Regions from separate parts of the Homo sapiens genome. Here regions 1 and 3 are each linked to region 2. The links come from fine-mapping of genetic effects on gene expression. A gene starts in region 2. Each other region holds a variant in brackets. All regions are shown on one strand. Distances are between the middles of the regions. Region 1 overlaps FOLR1-AS1 (FOLR1 antisense RNA 1). Region 2 holds the start of FOLR3 (folate receptor gamma). Region 3 holds the start of FOLR1-AS1 (FOLR1 antisense RNA 1).

Region 1 (7,756 bases), 36 kb after region 2:
GAGTGTTAGCCTAAAAATGTAGGCAAAAACTTAAACACTAATGACTTTAGAATTTATTGACAAATGTATGGTGTTTTGAAACATAATTTCTCTCTCTCCAGTCCTCATTTTTGTTAAAAAAGCAAATTATGGTAGGATTGAGTTGTTTGCAAAATAGACTTTAGTCATATACTTGGCCTGATTATTTGCATAAAGTGCAGCAAGAATAACTATTTCTACATAAGTCTTTTAGATTGGCTTTGATGGAACTCTGTTCTTCAAGGAATTTCAGACAAAACGTTTTAAAACTGAGCCCAGCCATGGATTTGTATCCTCAAATACCTGTAAGTTGGATGATCTTCTCGTGTTAAGGTCCCATGACAAATTTGGAGCTCCTAGACCTGTTAGAAAGTGACATTCTTGGCCAGGCGTGGTGGCTCACACCTGTAATCCTAGCACCTTGGGAGGCCGAGGTGGGCGGATCACCGGAGGTCAGGAGTTCGAGACCAGCCTGGCCAACATGGTGAAACCCTGTCTCTACTTAAAATACAAAAAATTAGCTGGGTGTGGTGGCAAGTGCCTGTAGTCCCAGCTATTTGGGAAACTGAGGCAGGAGAATCACTTGAACCTGGGAGGCGGAGGTTGCAGTGAGCCGAGATCATGCCACTGCACTCCAGCTTGGCGACAGAGCAAGAGTCTGCCTCAAAAAAAAAAAAAAAAGAATACTCACGGATAATTTCCAAATTCTGGAGAAGCCAGGCAGAGAGAGAGAAAAATATGCTTCAAATTTTGTTCACAGGAGTGTAGCTTACTCTAGTATTAAAGGCCTTAAAGAGTTCAAAATAATTTTCCTTGACTCTGAGAAACAAAACAAGGATCAGCAATATTCCAAGCAAAAGTCAAAAAGGTTGCTTCAGCTTTCTGAGTTCAGTCCATTCAGTTCTTGTTATGCTTGATATTCGTGAACATTTTAGCTCTTCATGAGTCCTGTACATTTTCCTTTATTCCAATATCACAGTCTCCAAAGTTATCAGAAACCTGTATTTGAGAGCACCTGTCAGAGTCCTATAGCTTATTACAAACCAACTTTATTTTTTTTTGAGACAGGATCTTGCTCTGTTGCCCAAGCTGGAATGCAGTGGTGAGATCTTGGCTCACTGCAACCTCCACCTCCTGGATTCAAGCGATTCTCCTGCCCCAACATCCTGAGTAGCTGGGATTACAGGTATGTGCCACCATGCCCGGCTAATTTTTGTATTTTTTTTTTTTTAGTAGAGATGGGGTTTTACCATGTTGACCAGGTTGGTTTTGAACTCCTGACCTCAGGTGATACCCCTGACTTGGCCTTCCAAAGTGCTGGGATTAAAGGTGTGAGCCACTGCACCCAGCCGGATCAGGCACTTTTAACTTGAAAACATGAAGTTCTCTTTCCTAACTTTTTTCTTTCTTTCTTTTTTTTTTTTTTTTCCGAGACAGGATCTCACTCTGTCACCCAGGCTGGAGTGCAGGGATGCCATCACAGCTCACTGCAGCCCTGACCTCCTGGGCTCAAGCAATCCTCCCAGCTCATCCTCCCAAATGGCTGGGACTATAGGCTTAGACCACCATACCCAACTAATTTTTGTATTTTTGTGTGAAGATGAGGTCTCCCTATGTTTCCCAGGCTGGTCTTGATCTCCTGGGCTCAAGCAATCCATCAGCCTTGGCCTCCCAAAGCACTGGGATTATAGGCATGAGCCACCAAGGACGGCCCCCTAATGTTTTTTATATTGGCTAATGAGCTTTAAGTTTATACATACAAGGCATAAAGAAATAACTTTAAAGTTATGTTATTAGATGTACAGTGATATGATTTAGCTCTGTGTCCCCACCCAAGTCTCATCTTGTAGCTCCCATAACTCCCATGTGTTGTGAAAGGGACCTGGTGGGAGATGATTGAATCGTGGAGGTGGGTCTTTCCCGTGCTGTTCTCATGATAATGAATGGGTCTCACAAGATCTGATGGTTTTAAAAACGGGAGTTTCTCTGCACAAGCTCTCTCTTTGCCTGGTGCCATCCACATAAGATGTGACTTGCTTCTCCTTGCCTTCCACCATGATTGTAAGGTCTCCCCAGCCATGTGGAACTGTAAATCCAATAAACCTCTTTCGTAAATTGCCCAGTCTTGCATATGTCTTTATCAGCAGCGTGAAAACAGATGAATACAGTAAATTTGTACTGGGAGTGGGGCATTGCTGAAAAGATACCCAAAAATGTGGAAGCGACTTTGGAACTGGGGAACAGGCAGAGGTTGGAACAGTTTGGAGCGCTCAGATGAAGACAGGAAAATGTGGGAAAGTCTGGAGCTTCCTAGAGACTTGTTGAAGGGCCTTGACCAAAAGCCTGATAGTGATATGGACAATAAGGTCCAGGCTGAGGTGGTCTCAGATGAAGATGAGGAACTTGTTGGGAACTGGAGCAAAGGTAACTCTTGTATGTTTTAGCAAAGAGACTGGCAGCATTTTGTCCCTGCCCTAGAGATTTGCAGAACTTTGAACTCGAGAGAGATGGTTTAGGCTATCTGGTGGAAGAAATTTGTTTATTATTATTATTATTATTATTATTATTATTATTATTTTGAGATAGAGTCTCACTCTGTCACCCAGGCCAGAGGACAGTAGCGTGACCTTGGCTCACTGCAACCTTCGCCTCCTGAGTTCAAGCGTTTCTCATGTCTCGGCCTCCCAAGCAGCTGAGATAACAGGCATGTGCCTCCATGCCTGGCTAATTTTTGTATTTTAGAAGAGACAGGGATTCACCACATTGGCCAGGCTGGTCTCAAACTCCTGACCTCAAATGATCCAACTCAGCCTCCTGAAGTGTTGGAATTACAGGCATGAGCCACCACACCTGGCTGCGGAAGAAATTTCTAAGCTGCAAAGCATTCAAGAGGTGACTTGGGTGTGGTTAAAGGAATTCAGTTTTATAAGGGAAGCAGAGAATAAAGGTTCAGAAAATTTGCAGCCTGACAATGCGATAGAAAAGAAAAGCCAATTTTCTGAGGAGAAATTCAAGCCAGCTGCAGAAATGTGCATAAGTAACAAGAGGAACATTAACCCCCAATACAATGGGGAAAATGTCTCCAGGGCATGTCAGAGGTCTTCTTGGCAGCCCCTCCCATCACAGGCCCAGAGGCCTAGGAGAAATGGTTCCGTGGGCCAGGTCCAGGGTCCCCGTGCTGTATGTAGCCTAGGGACTTGGTGCCTTGTGTCCCAGCTGCTCCAGCCATGGCTGAAAGGGGCCAACATAGAGCTTAGGCCATGGCTGCAGAGGGTGAAAGCCCCAGTCCTTGGCAGCTTCCACGTGGTATTGAGCTTGCAAGTGCACAGAAGTCAAGAATTGGGGTTTGGGAACCTCCACCTAGATTTCAGAAGATGTATGGAAATGCCTGGATGCCCAGGCAGAAGTTTGCTGCAGGGGTGGGGTGCTCATGGAGAACCTCTGCTAGGGCAGGGCGGAAGGGAAATGTGGGGTTGGAGCTCCCACACAGAGTCCTTACTGGGGCACTGCCTAGGGCAGCTGTGAGAAGAGGGCCATTGTCCTCTAGCCCCAAGAATGGTAGATCCACTGACAGCTTGCACTGTTTGCCTGGAAAAGCTGCAGACACTCAATGCCAGCCTGTGAAAGCAGCCGGGAGGGA[G/A]GCTGTACACTGAAAAGCCACAGGGGCGGAGCTGCCAGAGACCATGGGAACCCACCTCTTACATTAGTGTGACCTGATATGAGAGATGGAGTCAAAGGAGATCATTTTGGAGCTTTAAGATTTGACTGCCCTGCTGGATTTTGGACTTGCAGGGGCCTGTAGCCCCTCTGTTTTGGCTAATTTCTCCCATTTTGGAGTGGCTGTATTTACCCAATACCTGTACTCCCATTGTATCCAGGAAGTAACTAACTTGCTTTTGATTTTACAGGCTGATAGGCAGAAGTGTCTTGCTTTTTCTTTGCTGAGACTTTGGACTGTGGACTTTTGAGTTAATTCTGAAATGAGTTGAGACTTTGGGGGACTGTTGGGAAGGCATGATTGGTTTTGAAATGTGAAGATATGAGATTTGGGAGGGGACAGGGATGGAATGATATGGCTTGGCTGTGTCCCCACCCAAATCTCATCTTGTAGCTCCCATAATTCACTCATGTTGTGGGAGGGACCTGGTGGGAGATGATTGAATCATGGGGGTGGGTCTTTCCCATGTTCTTGTGAGAGTGAATGGGTCTCACGAGATCTGATGGTTTTTAAAACAGGAGTTTCTCTGCACAAGCTCTCTCTTTGCCTGCTGTCATCCACATAAGATGTGACTTGCTCCTCCTTGCCTTCTGCCATTATTGTGAGGTCTCCCCAGCCATGTGGAACTGTAAGTCCAATGAACCTCTTTCTTTTGTAAATTGCTCTATCTCGGGTATGTCTTTATCATTCCTGAAAATGGACTAATACATACGGCAATACTCAAGAGAGCAAGTGTGGATAGCTTGGGTTCATGAGGTTTTTGGTTTTTGTCAAAAGCATAAATGTATACTGAAACTACCCAGAAAAAGCAAAGTATAAAACAGTATGCTACCATTTGTGCCCATAAATGGGATATGTGTAGTGTAAATGCATAGAATTTGACCAGATGTATACCCAGAGACCAGAACACTCAGTGGCCTCATGTTCATACTTTGGCAAACACATGTATAGTATCCTTAACTTAAATGTACCATTGTTGTGTGCATTCTAGTGTTATTGACATTTACATATCTATTATCAAGTCAGATAAATCATTCTGTGTCTTTGTATTTTCACTTCCTATTTTGTATATTTATGTATACATACACACATACCAATACATATTTAAATAAGGTATAACTTCACCTGGTCCAAAAATCAAAACAACGTAGAAAGGTTTACAGTGAAAGGTCGCATCCCTGATGCTGTCCTCTTCCCCCAGGTGATCACCTTATTGGTTTCTTTTCATACCTTTCAGCATTTTCTCCTGCAAGCACAGATATTCTAACTCCTCCTTTTTTACACAGAATTTTTTTTTACATAGCATTCTTCTGCACCTTCCTTCTCCCACTTCACAATGCACATGGAGATTTTTCCGTATTTGTACATCAGGAGCTTCCTCTTTCTTTGTTACCACATTAAATTCCACTGGGTAGATGTACCATAATTTAACTGGGTCCTTATTGAAAGACAATTGAGCTGTCTCCTAGACAAAGCCTTGTGCACCTTCCCGAACAGAGGGTCTAACCAAGCAGGCAGGATGGGGTTATAAAGTAGGTGGGGAGGTGGGAGAGACTCCACCCTCCCAGGTGGGCTGAGGATGGAGGTAAGGCCCTGCAACAGGACAGAGGGAAAAGTGGGGATGAGACATGGGAGGCGAGATAGCGCTCACTGTTCTCGCTCAGCCCCCTCCTCCATTTGCCGCTGACCTGTTGGCCTCCCCCAACCTCTGAGCCTGCCTCTGCCTAGGTAATTTCCCAAGACCCAGGAGGGGTGAAGGGTGAGGTGCGATTGCCCCCACCTCCTTGCCTCCCGCAGCATCTGCTCCAGGACCATGAACAATAGCTGACAGCTCCATGGCCCTTGCTGTCCCCATCTCAGCTTCCCTGGGCATCTAAACCTCAGTTGCCGTGGGGTAGGAGGACAGGCTGAGGAAGCAGAAGCCTGAGGCTGTCTAGAGTCTCACTCCTGCATCAGCAGGCCACCACCTGTGGTTCCTCCTTGTGCAAATTTGAGAGGAATTGCATAAAACACTGGAGAAATCCAAGAGGGGAAGTCCACAAGGGCGGTGGCTCCCTCCATGATCTCAGAGCAAGCTGGTGTCAGAACCTGGACCTAGAGCACTGTTGGGTGGGAAGTAGGAGGAGAGTCCTGCCTCCAGGCCAGCCGGGGAAGGGCTCCCTCTCACCTCTACACGCAGCGCATTTCTTGGCTCAGCTGCCCTGTAGGGGATGCAGGGTGGGGACAGCAGAGATCTGGGCCTGGGAGGGAGACAGTACACAATCACATGGCTGTTGCCCCTCCCTCAGGCCTTGTCTACCTCTGACTGTGGCTCTCTGGCAGGAATAGATGGACATGGCCTGGCAGATGATGCAGCTGCTCCTTCTGGCTTTGGTGACTGCTGCGGGGAGTGCCCAGCCCAGGAGTGCGCGGGCCAGGACAGACCTGCTCAATGTCTGCATGAACGCCAAGTACCACAAGACACAGCCCAGCCCCGAGGACGAGCTGTATGGCCAGGTGAGGATAAAGTCGGGTCTGGGGCAGGGGAGAGAGCTGCCTTTGACAGAGAAAAGTTAGCAGGGTGAAGTCAGCTGTGGAAGGTGATGAAGGCAGAGGATGACTGCTGTGATCCTGGAGGGCCTCCCCTGGGAGGACACCAAATCTACAATAATAAAGGAACCACATACCTAACACCCACTATGAGCCTATGAGCCTTGTGCTTTCACTCATGCCATGTTAGTGAATATGCCCAAAGGGCAGGGTGGGTGCGTGGTAGTCTCTACTTACGCAAATGAGGAAATAGGCCCAGAGAGGGCGCAGGTGCAAGTGGGAAATGAGGAGAGGGACTGTCCATACCTTTCCCAGCCTTAATTGTGTGCCAGCCCACAGAGCTCAATGGCACAGTAGAAGAGGAGCTGGGCCCATCATGGTCATGGTGCAGCCTACATGTACAAACAGTCCAGGTTTCCACCCCCATTAGGTACTGAAGAGACAACGACCAATCCAATATGCTGGGGAGACTTCCCAGGCAAGAGACCATTGGCCTTGACCTGGGAAGATGAGTAAGAGTTTTCTAGGAGGAAAAAGCGGGAAAGGGCAGCCTGGTAGAGGACAGCATGCACACAGGTCAGAGGGTGATGGCACGAGCAATGGCGGGTCCAGTGTGGCCAGAGCCAGCGGTGCCACTGCCCACAAGGAAGGGGAGGGGAGGCCAGGGCCCTCATGCCACAGGTAAGGCCACTGAGGCAGCTCGGGGAGTATGAGCTCCAATTTGAATTCCAAGCTCAGGAGAGTGCCTGTATTTCATTTCTCTGGTCTCCTGGCCTGCTCCCTAGAAGGGTTCACATTCCCAGAGGGTGAGGATGTGCCCAGGGAGAGACTGTGGCATGGACAGGCTCCGAGGGCTAAAGCAAAGAGAGGACAGCCTGGAAGCCCTGTGACATCTGAGTCATTCCCAACATTCCATTTGCTTATTTTAAAATCAGGGTAAAATTTAAAATAAATAAATAAAATAAGTTCTCCATTTTAGCCATTTTTAACTGTACAGGTCAGTGGCATTAAGTATGCTCATGTATGCCGGGTGCAGTGGCTCACGCCTGTAATCCCAGCACTTTGGGAGGCCGAGGTGGGCGGATCACCTGAGGTCAGGAGTTTGAGACCAGCCTGACCAACATGGAGAAACCCTGTCTCTACTAAAAATACAAAAAAAAAAAAAATTAGCCGGGCATGGTGGCCCATGCCTGTAATCCCAGCTACTCGGGAGGCTGAGACGGGAGAATTGCTTGAACCTGGGAGGCAGAGGTTGCAGTGAGCCGAGATCGCGCCATTGCACTCCAGCCTGGGCAACAAGAGCAAAACTCTGTCAAAAAAAAAAAAAAAGTATGCTCATGTGGTTGTGCAACCATCACCACCATCCATCTCCTGACCTCTTTCATTCTCCAAAACTGAAATGGAAACTTTGTGCCCACCACTTCATTTGCTTTTCAGAACCTTCTAAAGCACCTACTCTTTGCCAAGAAATGGTGCAGATGTAGACTTTGA
Region 2 (7,756 bases):
TACTGAAACTACAGAAATTAGCCTGGCATAGTGGCATGTGCCTATAATCCCAGCTACCTGGGAGGATGAGGCAGGAGAATCACTGGAACCGGAAGGCAGAGGCTGCAGTGAGCTGAGATCACACCACTGCACTCCAGCCTGGGGGACAGAGCAAGACTCTGTCTCAAAACAAAACAAAACAAAAACACAATACTTATTTACTTATACTTCAAGATTTTGTGAGTTTAATTATACTTCAAGATTTTGTGAGATTTTGCCCAAGAATTTGGGCAAGACTCATGATTGGCCCATCTTGGCCGGGCGTGGTGGCTCACCCCTGTAGTCCCAGTATTTTGGGAGGCCTAGGTTGGAGGATTGTTTGAGCCCAAGAGTTGAAGACCAGCCTGGGCAACATGGCGAAACCTCCTCTCTACAAAAATACAAAAATTAGCTGGGCGTGGTGGTGCGTGCCTGTAGTCCCAGATACTCAGGGAGGTTGAGGCTGCAGTGAGCCATGATGGTGCCACTGCACTCCAGCTGGGGTGACAGAGTGAGACCCTGTCTCCTAAAAATAAAAAATAAGGTAAAATAAAGATTGGCCCATCTACCCTCAACAGTTGCCTGGACTCCCTGGGGCTCAGTGCACCTAGATGCTGGACTCGGATAACCATCTGATCTTTGATGTAGTGGACAGACACTTTGTTCTTGCCATCATCTTTGGTACCTGAGATAGAAAGCCTTAAAGAGAGGCCACGCCCATGATTAAGTTTCAGGTCAAAACAACGAGCAAAAAGGCAACGGCTATAGTTGTAGGTGTAGCAAATCAGTGTGCCTTTTATCTAGAGGCTACTGAAAACCAGACATTCATTAAAGATATTCTGGTCACTTGGATGAAGGCTGGCCTTGGCATTCACCTGAATCTTTAGTAGAGTCTTTAGCACCATTGGCAACTCAGCCAGACCTGGCCTTGGCCACGATAGTGGAGCCTGGGATTGGAGGGCATGAATTTTATGAAGCCTGTAATATCAGAAATTCGTTGGTTGAGGACATACCTCTTTCTTTTTGGACCCTGTGGGCGTAATGCTATTGATACATGTGCAGAGGAGGAATTAATATGACTGTGATTGACAGAATAATTATGAAGTGCAAAGACCTCAGATCTGTGATCAGCTTCCATAGAAGTATTTGCTCAGAAGCTTCTCAGAAACATTCTCATGATTGAAGAAGCCTTGAAGAGCCCGTATTTCTGTCTATGAAATCTCCTGTTTATTGTACTATGAGGACCCATCAGAAAGTAACTGAGGTAGTGCTGATTTCCTGAGCAATTATTCAGTCCACTGTCTCAAATCCATCATGCAGAATGTTCACAGAGGGTAAAGTAAGTTTGACTATTATAACTACTCACTTTTATAAGTGATTTAATTTAAAGATTAATATGATAAGTACTCTGTTTTTCCTGGGAATTTTGTTGTAGAAAGAGTAACTGCTGTGTGGCTAAACTAAGGTTATAAGCCAAATTGTTTCCTCAGAGTTTAAGAAACACAATACTAACTCTCATGGGTTTACTAGTTGTCTGTTGCTGCATAACAAATCATTCCATAATTTTGTGGTGTATTGCTGCAGACAATGTTAAACTAAGTGGATGAAAAGGATATTCACATAGTCTCAGAGTGTCTCCCTACAAGGTAGGATTACTAACAAAGGGAAACTAATAATTATATAGTAAGGAAATCTCCTTAACCCAATAATCACCAGCAATAAGATGCAGCAACCCTCATCATGTACCTCTTGATATGATGCACTGACAAAAGCACCTCTCTTCTCTAATTTTCTTGCCAAAATGCATAAGCTCAAGCTAATTACAGGAAAATATAGACAAACCCAAATTGAGGGACATTCTGCAAAATAACTGAACAGTAATTCTCCAAAAGTGTCAAGGTCATAAAAGACAAAGACATTGAGGAACTGTCACAGATTGGAGGGAGACTAAGGGGACATGACAACTACATGCAACCTGGAATCATGGACTGAATCCTGGGCCAGAGAAAGGACATTGGGGGGGAAACTGGTGTAAAGGGCATAAAGCTTGTAGATTAGTTAACAGTATTGCCTCAATATTAATTTCCTGATTTTTTTAAGAACTGGGCTTTGGTTACATAAGATGCCAATATTTGGGGAAGTTGCATAAAAACATACGGGAAATCTTTTGACGATGTTTTGCAGTTTTTCTGCAAATCTAAAATTATTTCAAAACAAAAAGTTTAAAAATCAAATACACATAGTTGCTTGAAATAGTAACTATTTTATTATATTCCAAGATGTTGTGAGTCAGGAATTTGGCCAAAACTCAGGTGGGCGATTCTTCTGCAAAGACCCCCACAACACATTCAAAGTCACAGGCAGAGGTTGTTGGGGGAGGGCATTGAAAAGAAGAGAAGAGTCATAGGTGGGTGCAATGGAGGGAGGGCAGAGGGCTGCTGACTATGGTGCAGGACTCATCCATAATGGAGCCCTGGGGAGGCAAGGGCTTCATAACTAGACACTGGTCTTGTCACCTCAGACTCACCTGTAGCAGGACCAGATACTGAGGTCAGACTGAAAACACAGGCTCTGCCTCAGGAGAGGCTCTCTACTAGCTGAGTAAATGATGACAGTATTGGAAATGTTCCCAACATCATAATGGGAAAACATCACTTCACACTACATAAGCAATACACAGGGGCAGTGCCGGTCGTCTTCCCAGGTTAGTAGCAGTTCTACTGCCTCCAAGAGTGTTGGAGAAATACAAACCAAGCATTAGGCACTTTTAACTTGAAAACATGAAGTTCTCTTTCCTAACTTTCTTTGTTTCCTTATTTCTTCTTCTTCTTCTTCTCCTTCTTCTTCTTCTTCTTCTTCTTCTTCTTCTTCTTCTTCTTCTTCTTCCTCTTCTTCTTCTTCTTCTTCTTTCTTCTTCTTCTCCTTCTCCTTTTCCTTCTTCTTTTTTTGCTGAGACAGGGTCTCACTCTGACAGTACAGTGGTGCCATCACAGCTCACTGCAGCCTCGACCTCCAGGGCTCAAGCAATCCTCCCAGCTCACCCTCCCAAATGGCTGAAACTACAAGCTCGCACCACCATACGTGGCTAATTTTTCTATTTTTGTGTGCAGATGAAGTTTTCCTATGTTGCCCAAGTGGTCTCAAACTCCTGGGATCAAGTGATCCATCCACCTCAACCTCCCAAAACGCTGGGATTACAGGTGTAAGCCACCACACCCAGCCCACTAACTTTTTTATATCGGCTAATGAAATAGTTTTAAGTTTAGACCCTACGAGGCATAAAGAAATAATTTTAGTTATGTTATCAGATGTACAGTAATACTCAAGTGTGCAACTGTGGATAACTTGAGTTCATGAGGTTTTTGTTTTTTTGTCAAAAGAATAAATTTATAGTGAAACTACCCAAAAAAGCAAAGTACAGAACAGTATGCTACCATTTGTGCACAGAAATGGGATATATATGGTGTAACTGCATCGAATTTACTGGATGTATGTCCAGGGACCAGAACTCTTGGTGGCTTCATGTTCATACTTTTGCAAGCACATGTGTAGTATCCTTAACTTAAAGGTACTGTTGTATACATTCTAGTGTTATCAAAATTTACATACATATTATCAAGTCAGAGAGGTCATTCTGTGTCTTAGTATTTTCACTTCATATTTGGTATATTTATGTATGTATACACACATACCTATATGTATTTAAATAAGATTTATAGTCACATGGTCCAAAAATCAAAACAATGTGGAAAGGTTTACAGAGAAAAGTCTCAAGCCTAATCCTGTTCTCTACTGCCAGGTGACCATGTTATTAATTTCTTTTCATACCTTGCCACAGAATTTTCACCTGCAAACACAGATATTCTTTTCTTTTTTAATGACAGAGTCACGTTCTGTTATCCAGGCTGGAGTGCAGTGGCGTGATCTTGGCTCACTGCAAACTCCTCCCGGGTTCAAGTGATTCTCCTGTCTCAGCCTCCTGAGTAGCTGGGATTACAGGCATGTGCCACCACACCCAGCTAATTTTTGTATTTTTAGTACAGATGGGGTTTTATCATATTGACCAGGCTGATGTCGAACTCCTGACCTCAAGTGATCCGCCTGCCTCGGCCTCCCACAGTGCTGGGATTACAGGCGTGAGCCACCACGCCCAGTCAACACAGACATTCTTACTCCTTTTTTACAGAGAATTTATTATTATTATTTTTTACATAGCATTTTTCTGCACCTTTCTTTTTCCACTTAACAATGCACTTGAAGATTTTTCCATATTTGTACATCAGGAGCTTTCTCTTTCTTTGTTACCACATTAAATTCCACTGGGTAGATGTACCATAATTTAACTGGGTCCTTATTGAAAGACAATTGAGCTGTCTCCTAGACAAAGCCTTGTGCACCTTCCCGAACAGAGGGTCTAACCAAGCAGGCAGGATGGGGTTATAAAGTAGGTGGGGAGGTGGGAGAGACTCCACCTTCCCAGGTGGGCTGAGAATGGAGGTAAGGCCCTGCAACAGGACAGAGGGAAAAGTGGGGATGAGAGGTGGGAGGCGAGATAGCGCCCACTGTTCTCGCTCAGCCCCCTCCTCCGTTTGCCGCTGACCTGTTGGCCTCCCCCAACCTCTGAGCCTGCCTCTGCCTAGGTAATTTCCCAAGACCCAGAAGGGGTGAAGGGTGAGGTGTGATTGCCCCCACCTCCTTGCCTCCCGCAGCATCTGCTCCGGGACCATGAACAATAGCTGACAGCTCCATGGCCCTTGCTGTCCCCATCTCAGCTTCCCTGGGCATCTAAACCTCAGCTGCCATGGGGTAGGAGGACAGGCTGAGGAAGCAGAAGCCTGAGGCTGTCTAGAGTCTCACTCCTGCATCAGCAGGCCACCACCTGTGGTTCCTCCTTGTGCAAATTTGAAAAGAATTGCATAAAACACTGGAGAAATCCAAGAGGGGAAGTCCACAAGGGCGGTGGCTCCCTACAAGGTCACAGAGCAAGCTGGTGTCAGAGCCTGGACCTACAGCGCTGTTGGTGGAGGTCCTGCCTCCAGGTAGGGGAAGGGCTCCCTCTCACCTCTACACGCAGCGCATTTCTTGGCTCAGCTGCCCTGTAGGGGATGCAGGGTGGGGACAGCAGAGATCTGGGCCTGGGAGGGAGAGAGTACACAATCACATGGCTGTTGCCCCTGTCTCAGGCCTTGTCTACCTCTGACTGTGGCTCTCTGGCAGGAATAGATGGACATGGCCTGGCAGATGATGCAGCTGCTGCTTCTGGCTTTGGTGACTGCTGCGGGGAGTGCCCAGCCCAGGAGTGCGCGGGCCAGGACGGACCTGCTCAATGTCTGCATGAACGCCAAGCACCACAAGACACAGCCCAGCCCCGAGGACGAGCTGTATGGCCAGGTGAGGGCAGCCTGGTGTAGGACAGCATGCACACAGGTCAGAGGGTGATGGCACGAGCAATGGCAGGTCCAGTGTGGTCAGAACCAAGGGTGCCGCTGCTGACAAGGAAGGGGAGGGGCGGCCAGGGCCACCATGCCACAGGTAAGGCCACTGAGGCAGCTTGGGGAATATGAGCTCCAATTTGAACTCCAGGCTCAGGAGTGTGCTTGTATTTCATTCCTCTGGTCTCCTGGCCTGCTCCCTACAAGGTTTCACATTCCCAGAGGGCTGGGGATGTGCCTAGGGAGAGACTGTGGCGTGGACACAATCTGTGGGTTAAAGCGAAGACAGGACAGCCTGGAAGCCCCATGACATCTGAGTCACTCCCAACATTCCATTTGCTTATTTTTAAATCGGGGTTAAAAAAAAAAAACAAATACATAACATACATTTTCCACTTTAGCCATTTTTAACTGTACGGTTCAGTGGCATTAGGTATGCTCATGTGGTTGTGCAACCATCACCACCATCCATCTCCTGACCTCTTTCATTCTCCAAAACTGAAATGGAAACTCTGTGCCCACCACTTCATTTGCTTTTCAGAACCTTCTAGAGCACATCCTCCTTGCCAGGAAATGGTGTGGATGTAGACCTTTGAGAGAGACAGATGACTATCATTCTCAGGGCCATGAGCTATATGAGAGTGATGATATTTGTTGAGCCCTTACTATAGCAAGGGAGTTCTTCTCATTGTACTCAGTAACTCTTTTGGAGGCAACAACCCTTGACCCTGACAGGCAGGACCCATGTCTGCCAAACCCTAAGACCCATGATGTGCAAGGGGTCTTGCAGGAAGACCAAGAGTTGGAACATCCAAGGAAAAGCAAGTGTGAAGTCGGGCTGGCAGGGAAGCATGTTCTGTGTCAGCCGGCACTGGGCGTGGGCCAGGGTGTGGGAGGTGGGTAGGTCTGGCTCCCCTCCCATGGATTTCCCTATTGTTTCTCCTGGGTGCTCAGGCCTGTCACGCCTCTGCCATCACTTGACCCTAGGTGCAAGGGTTCAGCCCAGAAATTTTATGCAATTGATTCATGATTTCTCAGGTTTTCTGAGTCCTGGCCTAGAGTGACTTCCCAAGAAAAAACTCCACCATTTCTGCTTGTCTTACCTGCCTTGTATTTACCTTTCTAGGATTGCCTTTTCCACATTTAGTCAAGTCTAGGTTCAGACCCACGTGCAGGCTATAGCTCCTTCGTTCTCCACCACTCTCAGGATCTATCTAGAGTCTCCCCACCTGGACCTCCAGACCCTGGGAGAGCCAGACCAGCCCCTTGACCTCCACCCTCCCCCACAACCTGGGCCAGGTTCCTCTCCTCCCTGTCCTCAGTTATAATTTTTTTTTTTTTTAATTTGAGGCAGAGTTTCGCTCTTGTTGCCCAGGCTGGAATGCAATGGCATGATCTTGGCTCACTGCAACCTCTGCCTCCTGGGTTCAAGTGATTCTCCTGCCTCTGCCTCCTGAGTAGCTGGGATTACAGGCGCCTACCACTGTGCCTGGCTAATTTTTTGGTATTTTTAGTAGAGACAGGGTTTCTCTGTGTTGGTCAGGCTGGTCTCGAACTTCTAACCTCAGGTGATCCGCCCGCCTCCTTAAATCTTAACCTCACTGTTTACCATGGGTGTAGCTTACTTAAACTCTGTAAAAATGGGGGTAAGGATTCGTACTGGGTTGTTGAGAGGATAAAGCGCAAAAGCCTCAGGGACTTTGCACCTATGGTTTTCTATGCCTAGAGTGTTCTTTGTCTCCCTTCTACACACAGCCCACCCACCCACTAAAACCATACCCTCCCTGAGGGTAGAGGTGTTATTTGTTTTCTTCACTGTGGTGTTCCTAGGACCTAGCACAGTGCCTGATGTATAATCAGCACTCAGTTAATATTGGCTGGATGCAAAATGAATAATATAAATAAGCTGAATAACATGAAATAGGCCGAACGCGGTGACTCACGCCTGTAATCCCAACACTTTGGGAGGCCAAGGAGGGTGGATCACCTGAGGTCAGGAGTTCGAGACCAGCCTGGCAAACATGGTGAACCCCCGTCTCTACTAAAAATACAAAATTAGCTGGGCATGGTGGCACGTGCCTGTAATCCCAGCTACTTGGGAGGCTGAGGCAGGAGAATTGCTTGAACCCGGGAGGTGGAGGTTGCAGTGAGCCAAGATCACGCCACTGCACTCCAGTCTGGGCAACAGGAGCGAAACTCTGTCTCAAAAAAAAGTTAGTTTAATAACATGAGATCACTTTTTAAACCGTTAAGAGCTGTACTACTAATAATTACTCTCTCAGACAGTGGCTCTCCCTCATCTCCTA
Region 3 (7,756 bases), 77 kb after region 2:
TCTCAGCTCACTGCAACCTCTGCCTCCCAGGTTCAAGTGATTTTCCTGCCTTAGCCCCCACCCCAGTAGCTGGGATTACAGGCATTCACCACCATGTCCAGCTATTATTTTTGCATTTTTAGTAGAGACAGGGTTTCACCATGTTGGTCAGGCTGATCTCGAACTCCTGACTTCAAATGATCCATCTGCCTTGACCTCCCAAAGTGTTGGGATTACAGGCGTGAGCCACTGCACCCGGCCATATGTGAGTCTTTCTAGATCACAGAACAAAGACGTAGTTTTAAATCGGTGCACAAACAGTTCCAGGGCTATGGTCCTTTGGAACAATTGAGAAAAGGGGAGGGAACATCTAGTTCCCATTTTCTCTCCAGAAGGGGCTTATAGTACACTTCCAGTGGCTACTTGATGACCTAACAGCTAACAAACTTGCACCACGGAGATCATGGAGCAAACAAACAATAGCCCTATTACAGCTTTAGCAAGGGAACTTCATGAAACTTTCCTCTGGCTCACCCCATAAATAAATCCAGGTCTACTCATTCTTACAGGAAGGAGCTTGGCCATGCACTGAGTGCCACTACTTCTATGGCTCCAACCCTGGGATCTGTCTCCTTAATGACCTAGCTCTTGAAGTTGATGGAGCTTTGCATTCCTGGGTGGGCTGAGACCACAGAAAATGAAGAGGTGAACATATAATAGGCACGCTTCCAACAGCTATTTCCCCAGGATCAGAAGGCACAACCTGAATGTTAGTAAAGGCATTTGCCACAGATTTTCTCCTCAGCTTAGTGCAGAGAGAATGGGAGATAAACACCTGTATTCAGGTTTACCACAAAGATAGAAGTAGCTGAAACACACACCCAACACTCCAACATTTCCAGCTACACCTACAGAGTCTGGCTCCTGCTTTACTGGTCTCAGAATACTGAAATGATATGACATAAACTCCAGGGGGGCACCAAAAACAGAATAGAGGTCTGGACAAACACAAAGACTTGAGAGGTACCTTAAAATCTCTGGTCAGACAGATAGGTGAGAGCCTTCTCCTACACGAGGCCAGTCGGACAAGACTGAGAGCGATAGTGATATGCTCAGGCTTTGTGTCCCCAGCCAAATCTCATCTTGAAGTATAATCCTTGTAATTCCCACAAGTCAAGGGAGAGGCGAGGTGGAGGTAACTGAATCATGGGGGCAGTTTCCCCCATGCTGTTCTTGTGATAGTGAGTGAGTTCTCAGGAGATCTGATGGTTTTGCAAGGGGCTCCTCCCCCTTTGCTCGGCACTTCTCCTTCCAGCTGCCTTGTGAAGAATGTGCCTTGCTTCCCCTTAGCCTTCAGCCATGATTCTAAGTTTCCTGAGGCCTACCCAGCCATGCTGACCTTTGAGTCAATTAAACCTCTTTCCTTTGTAAGTCACCCAGTCTTGGGAAGTTCTTTATAGCAGTGTGAAAATGGACTAATACAGATAGTTATTTTATCTAATGTGCAGAAACCAACACAGAGAGTCAAGGAAAATGAAGAAATAGAGGAATATGTTCTAAATAGAAGAACAAGATGAATATCCAGAAACTGACCTGAGTGAAGTGGAGATATGTGATTTACCTGACAGAGAATTCAAAATAATGACCATGGAGATGCTTACTGAGGTCAGGGGAGCAATGTAAGAACAAACTGACAATTTCAATAAAGAGATAAGAAGTATTTAAAAAGTACCGAATAGAAATAATAGAGCTGAAGAATACTGTAACTGAAATTAAAAATTCAATAGAGGGGTTCAATAGTAAACTAGATCAAGTAGGAAAAAAAATAGTGAATTTGAAGACAGGTTACTGGAAATTACAAAATCTGAGGACTAAAAAGGAAAAAATAATAAAAAAAGAGTGAGGATAATTTAAGAGACTTATGGAACACCATGAAGCATAACGACATAGACATTATCAGTATATCAAAAGGAGAAAACAAAGAGAAAGGGCTAGAAAACATATTCAAAGAAATAATGGCAGAAAACTCCCCAAACCTGGGGAAAAAAATAGAAATCCAGATCCACGAAGCCCAAAGGACATCAAATAAGATTAATCCAAAGAGACCCACACCGAGACACATCATAATCAAACTGTCAAAAGTTAAAGACAAAGAGAGAGTTTTGAAAGCAGAAAGGGAAAAGTGAAACATTACATGCAAGGAAACCCATAAGATTATCAGTGGGTTTTCAGCAGAAACCTTGCAAACCAGAAAGAAGTAGAATAATATATTCAAAATCCTTATAGGAAAAATAAATTTTAACCAAGTACAATACCAAGGAACCCTGTCTTCCAAAAAGGGAGAATGATAAAGACTTCCTCAGACTAACAAAAGCTGAGAGAATGTATCACCACTAGATCTGCCTTATGAGAAATGCTAAAGGGACTTATTTAAGCCAAAAGAAGAGGATGTTAATTAGTAACATGAAAATATATGAAAGTGTGAAACTCACTGGTAAAAGTAAGTACGTTGTCAGGCCCGATGTGGTGGCTCACACCTGTAATCCCAGCACTTTAGGAGGCCGAGGCAGGTGGATCACCTGAGGTCAGGAGTTTGAGACCAGCCTGGCAAACATGGTGAAACCCTGCTTCTACTAAAAATACAAAAATTAGCTGGGCACATGCCTGTAATCCCAGCTATTTGGAGGGCTGAGGCAGGAAAATCACTTGAACCCTGGAGGCGGAGGTTGCAGTGAGCTGAGATCATGCCACTGCACTCCAGCCTGGGCAACACAGCAAGACTCTGTCTCACACACAAAAAAAAGTATGTTGTCAAATTCAAAATATTTAAATGCTATAATGGCAGTAGGTACATTAATTTTATATCTCTAGTAAAAAAGGTTGAAAGATCCCAGCTACTTGGGAGGCTGAGGCAGGAGAATTGCTTGAACCCAGGAGGTGGAGGTTGCAGTGAGCCGAGATCGCACCACTGCACACAAGCTTGGGCCACAAGAGGGAAACTCCGTCTCAAAAAAAAAAAAAAAAAGTTGAAAGAAAAACTAGTAAAAACAAGTAAAGCTACAGTACTTTGTTAAGAATACAAATTATTTTACTTTAGAGAGCTGAGGCAGGAGGATCACTTGAGCTCAGGAGTTTGAGACCAGCCTGGGCAACATAGTGAGACCTTGTCTCTACTACACAGGTGTAGTTTGTACCTGTATAGGTAATGTAATGATATTGACAAGGGAATTTAAGACAAAAATTGTTAAGAGACAAAGGAAGTCATTTAAAAATGATAAAAGGGTCAATCCATCAAGAAGACATAGCAAATATAAATATAAATGCAACTATCAACAGAGTCCCAAAACACATGAAGCAAAAAATAACAGAATTGAGGAGAGAAATACTTTATTCAACAATAACAGTTGGAGATTTCCATATCCCGCTACCAGTAGTATTTAGAAAAACTAGGTAGTAGAGAACTTGAACAACACTATCAACCAACTAGACCCATCAGATATCTACAGAACACTCCAGCCAAACAACAGCAGAATATATACTCTTCTCAAGTACACATGGAACACCATATTTTGGGCCATTAAAAAAGGTACCAATAAATTAAAAATAATTGAAATAGAAGAAAATATCTTCCCTGATCACAATGGAATGACATTAAAAAATAAGATAAGAACATTCAGGAAATTTACAAATATGTATAAATTAAATATACTCGTAAATCACAAGGGAAATTAGAAAATGCTTTAAGATGAATGAAATGAAAACACAAAATACCAAAACCTAAGGGAGGTAGCTAAAGCAGTGCTTGGAGAGAAATTTAGATTTGTAAATGTCAATATGAAAAAGAAGAATAACTTAAATCAATAAGCTAACCTACTACCTTAAAAAAAACAGAGAAAGGGCCAGGTGCAGTGGCTCATGCCTATAATCTCAGCACTTTGGGAGACCGAGG[C/T]GGGCAGATCACTTGTGCTCAGGAGTTCGAGACCGGCCTGGGCAGCATGGCGAAACACCGTCTCTACAAAAAATACAAAAATTAGCCAGGCGTGGTGGCGTGTGCCTGTAGTCCCAGCTACTCAAGAGCCTGAGGTAAGAGAATCACTTGAGCCTGGGAGGCAGAGGTTGCAGTGAGCCGAGATGGCACCACTGCACTCCAGCCTGGGTGACAGAGTGAGACCCTGTCTCAAAACAAAACAAAACAGAAAAAGATGAGCAAAATAAACTAGGAAAAAGAAGGAAATAGTAAAGATTAGAGCAAAAATAAATGGAATAGAGGATAGAAAAACACCAAAAATCAACAAAATCAAGTTAGTTCTTTAAAAAATCAACAAAACTGATGAGCTTTATCTAGATTGATCAAGAAAAAAGGAGAGAAGAATCAAATCAATAAAATCAGGAATGACAAAGGGAAGATCAGTACTGACCTCACAGAAATATAAAGGATTATAAGGGAATAGTATAAACAATTGTATGCAACATATTAGTTAACACCGATAAAACGAACAAATTCCTATAAAGTCACAAACTACCAAAGATAACACAAGAAGTAAAGAATACAAATAGACTTGTGACAAGTAAAGAGGTTGAGTTAGTAATTTTAAAATTTCCCACAAAGAAAATTTCAGGCCCAGATGGCCTCAGTGGTGGTTTCTACAAAATGTTATTTATTTATTTACTTATTTTACAGACAAGGTCTCGCTCTGTCACCCAGGCTGGAGTGCAGTGGCATGATCACAGCTTCCTGCAGCCTCAACCTCTTGGGCTCAAGCAATCCTCTCACCTCAGCCTCCCAAGTAACTGGGATTACAGGTGCATGCCACCATGCCTGGCTAATTTTTTTTATTCTTAGTAGAGACAAGATTTCACTATGTTTCCCAGGCTCGTATCGAACTCCTGAGCTCAAGTGATCCTCCCACCTCTGCCTCTCAAAGTGCTGGGAGGACAGCCATGAACTACCGCACCTGGCTCAAATGTTTAAAGAACAATTCATACCAATCCTTTACAAACTCTTTCAAAAAATAAAAGGAGGAAATATTTCTCAACTCATTCTGTAAGTTGTATTATATGAGCCAGTATTACCTTGTTATAAAATCGGACAAAGATATCACAAGAAAAGAAAACATAGATCAATATTCCTTACGAATTAAGACATAAATCTGCTTAACCAAATATTAGCAAACTGAATCCAGCAACAGGTCAAAAGTATATACTATTACTAAGCAGGATTTATTCCAGGAATGGAAGTTGGCTTAGCATCCAAAAATCAATTGATGTTCACCGTATTATTAGAATAAAGGACAAAAACCACATGATCATCTCAATTAGTGAAGAAAACCTTGTTTGACAAAATTCAATATCCTTTCATGATTAAACAAATGCTGAACAAACTAGAAATAGAAGGGAACTCAACCCAAAACCCAATGAAGAGCATCTCTGAAAAAACACATAACATCATATTCAATGGTGAAAGGCTTTCAACCTAAGATCAGGAATAAGAAAAGGATATGTACTCTCACCATGTCTATTTAAATTGTACTGAAGGTTGTAGTTAGTGCTATTATTCAAGAAAAAAGAAATAAAAGGTATCCAAATTGGAAAGCAAGACGTGAAACTATTTTTACTCATAGATGATATGATATTGTATACAGAAAATTCTAAGGAATCCATAAAAACAATATCATTACCACTAAATGAGTTCAACAAGTTTCAGGATACCAGATCAAAATACAAAAATCAATTGCATTTCTATACACTAGCAGTGAACAAATATGAAAATGAATTTAAGAATATGATTCCTAATCCCAGCACTTTGGGAGGCCAAGGCAGGCAGATCACGAGGTCAGGAGATCGAGACCATCCTGGCTAACACGGTGAAACGCCGTCTCTACTAAAAATACAAAAAATTAGCTGGGTGTGGTGGCGCGCGCCTGTAGTCCCAGCTACTCGGGAGGCTGAGGCAGGAGAATGGCGTGAACCTGGGAGGTGGAGGTTGCAATGAGCCAAGATCATGCCACTGCACTCCAGCCTGGGGGACAGAGCATGAGACTCTGTCTCAAAAAAAAAAAAAAGAATATGATTCCATTCATAATAGCATCAAAAAGAATAAAATATGTAGGAATAAGTTTAACAAAAGTAAAAGTTACAAGTAAAAGACTTGTAACTATAAAACATTGTTGAAAGACATTAAAAACCTAAATACATAGAAACAAATCTCGTGTTCATCAGTCAGAATACTTAATATTGTTAACATTGCAATACTCTCCCAAACTGATCTACAGATTCAACTCAAGAGCTGTCAAAATCCCAGCTGTCTTTTTTGTAGAAATTGACAACCTGATTCTAAAATTCATATGGACATGAAAGAGATCCAGAATAGCCAAAGCAATCTTGAAAAAGAAAAAAATTGGAGAAATAACACTTTTCACTTTCACAACTTACTACAAATCTACAATAATCAAGACAGCATGGTAGTGGCACAAGGAGAGACATATACATCAGTGGAATCAAACTGGGAGTCCAGGTTTTTGACAAGGGTATTAAAACATGGGGAAAAGAATAGTCTTCAACAAATGGTGCTGGGACACAACTGGATATTCATATGCGAAAAAAAGTTGGACCTTTATCTTACAGCTTTACACAGGTGTAATACACTTGTATAAATACATCTTTATACAATATTAAAAACAACTCAAAATAGATCCATGACCTAAATAAACATAAAAGCAAAAATGATGAAAGTCTTTGAAGAAAACCTAGGCAAAGAGTTTCATGACATTGAATTAGGCAATGAGTTATTGAATATGAGACCAATAGCACAGGAAACAAAAGTAAAAATAGGTAACTGGACTACATCAAAATTAAAAACTTCTGTCCATCAAAGGACAATCAACAGGCAACATACAGAATGGGAGAAAATATTTGCAAATCATATACCTGATAAAGGGTGAATTCAGAATACATAAAAGAATACTACAACTCAACAAAAAGAAAACTCAATTTTAAAAATAGGCAAATGACTTGAATAGACATTTCTCCAAAGAAGATATACAAATGGCTAATAAGCATGGAAAAAGATGCTCATTATCACTAATTATTAGAGAAATGTACATCAAAGTCACAATGAGATATCGCCTCACACTCAACATGATGGCTACTATAAACCCAAAACTCCCAAAACAGGAAATAAGTGTTGATGAGGATGTGGAGAAATTGGAACCTTTGTGCACTGCTGATGGAAATGTAAAATGGTGTGGCCACTACAGAAAACAGTGTGGCAGTTCTTCAAAAATTAAATATAGACTTACCATATAATCCTGCAATTTCACTTCTGGATATATACCAAAAAGAATTGAAAGAAAGGTCTTAAAGACATATTTATATGCCCATTTTCATAGCAGTATTCTTCATGATAGCCAAAAGTGGAAGCAACCCAAAGGTCCATTGATAGATGAATAAATAAAGAAAATGTGGTACATACATACAATGAAATATTACCCAGCCTTAAAAAGGAATGAAATTCGGATACACCTTACAACATGGACAAATCTTGGGGACATTACGAAAAGCCAGTCACGAAAAGACAAATATTGCATGATTCCACTTGGACAAGGAACTTACAGTACAGTAGCCCAAATCACAGAGACGGAAAATAGAATGGTGGTTGGCGGGGGCTAGGGAAAGTGAAAGTGGGGAATCGTTTAATGGATATGGAGTCTCAGTTTTGCAGGATGAAAAGTTTCCAAGATTGATTGCAAACAGTATGACTATATTTGACACTGCTGAA

The links. PIP is the estimated chance that this variant, and not a neighbour inherited with it, causes the effect.
Region 1: its variant is the best candidate, but not a certain one, in a credible set for the expression of FOLR3 in whole blood (TOPMed, PIP 0.83).
Region 3: its variant is the best candidate, but not a certain one, in a credible set for the expression of FOLR3 in whole blood (TOPMed, PIP 0.60).

What each region holds. Positions count from the first base shown.
Region 1 is chr11:72,166,385-72,174,140 of GRCh38, forward strand. All of the region lies in intron 2 of FOLR1-AS1 (FOLR1 antisense RNA 1), which reads right to left. It also overlaps the pseudogene FOLR3P1. Among named protein-coding and RNA genes, the nearest start is that of FOLR1, 22 kb to the right of the region's middle. The variant G/A (reference allele first, on the strand shown) is at 3,659.
Region 2 is chr11:72,130,712-72,138,467 of GRCh38, forward strand. FOLR3 (folate receptor gamma) reads left to right here and starts at 5,014. Exons shown (of 5, transcript NM_000804.4): 1 at 5,014-5,057; 2 at 5,236-5,409. The coding sequence starts at 5,242. It also overlaps the pseudogene RPEP6.
Region 3 is chr11:72,208,041-72,215,796 of GRCh38, forward strand. It overlaps FOLR1-AS1 (FOLR1 antisense RNA 1), which reads right to left and starts at 1,201. Exons shown (of 3, transcript NR_199595.1): 1 at 1,007-1,201. The variant C/T (reference allele first, on the strand shown) is at 3,929.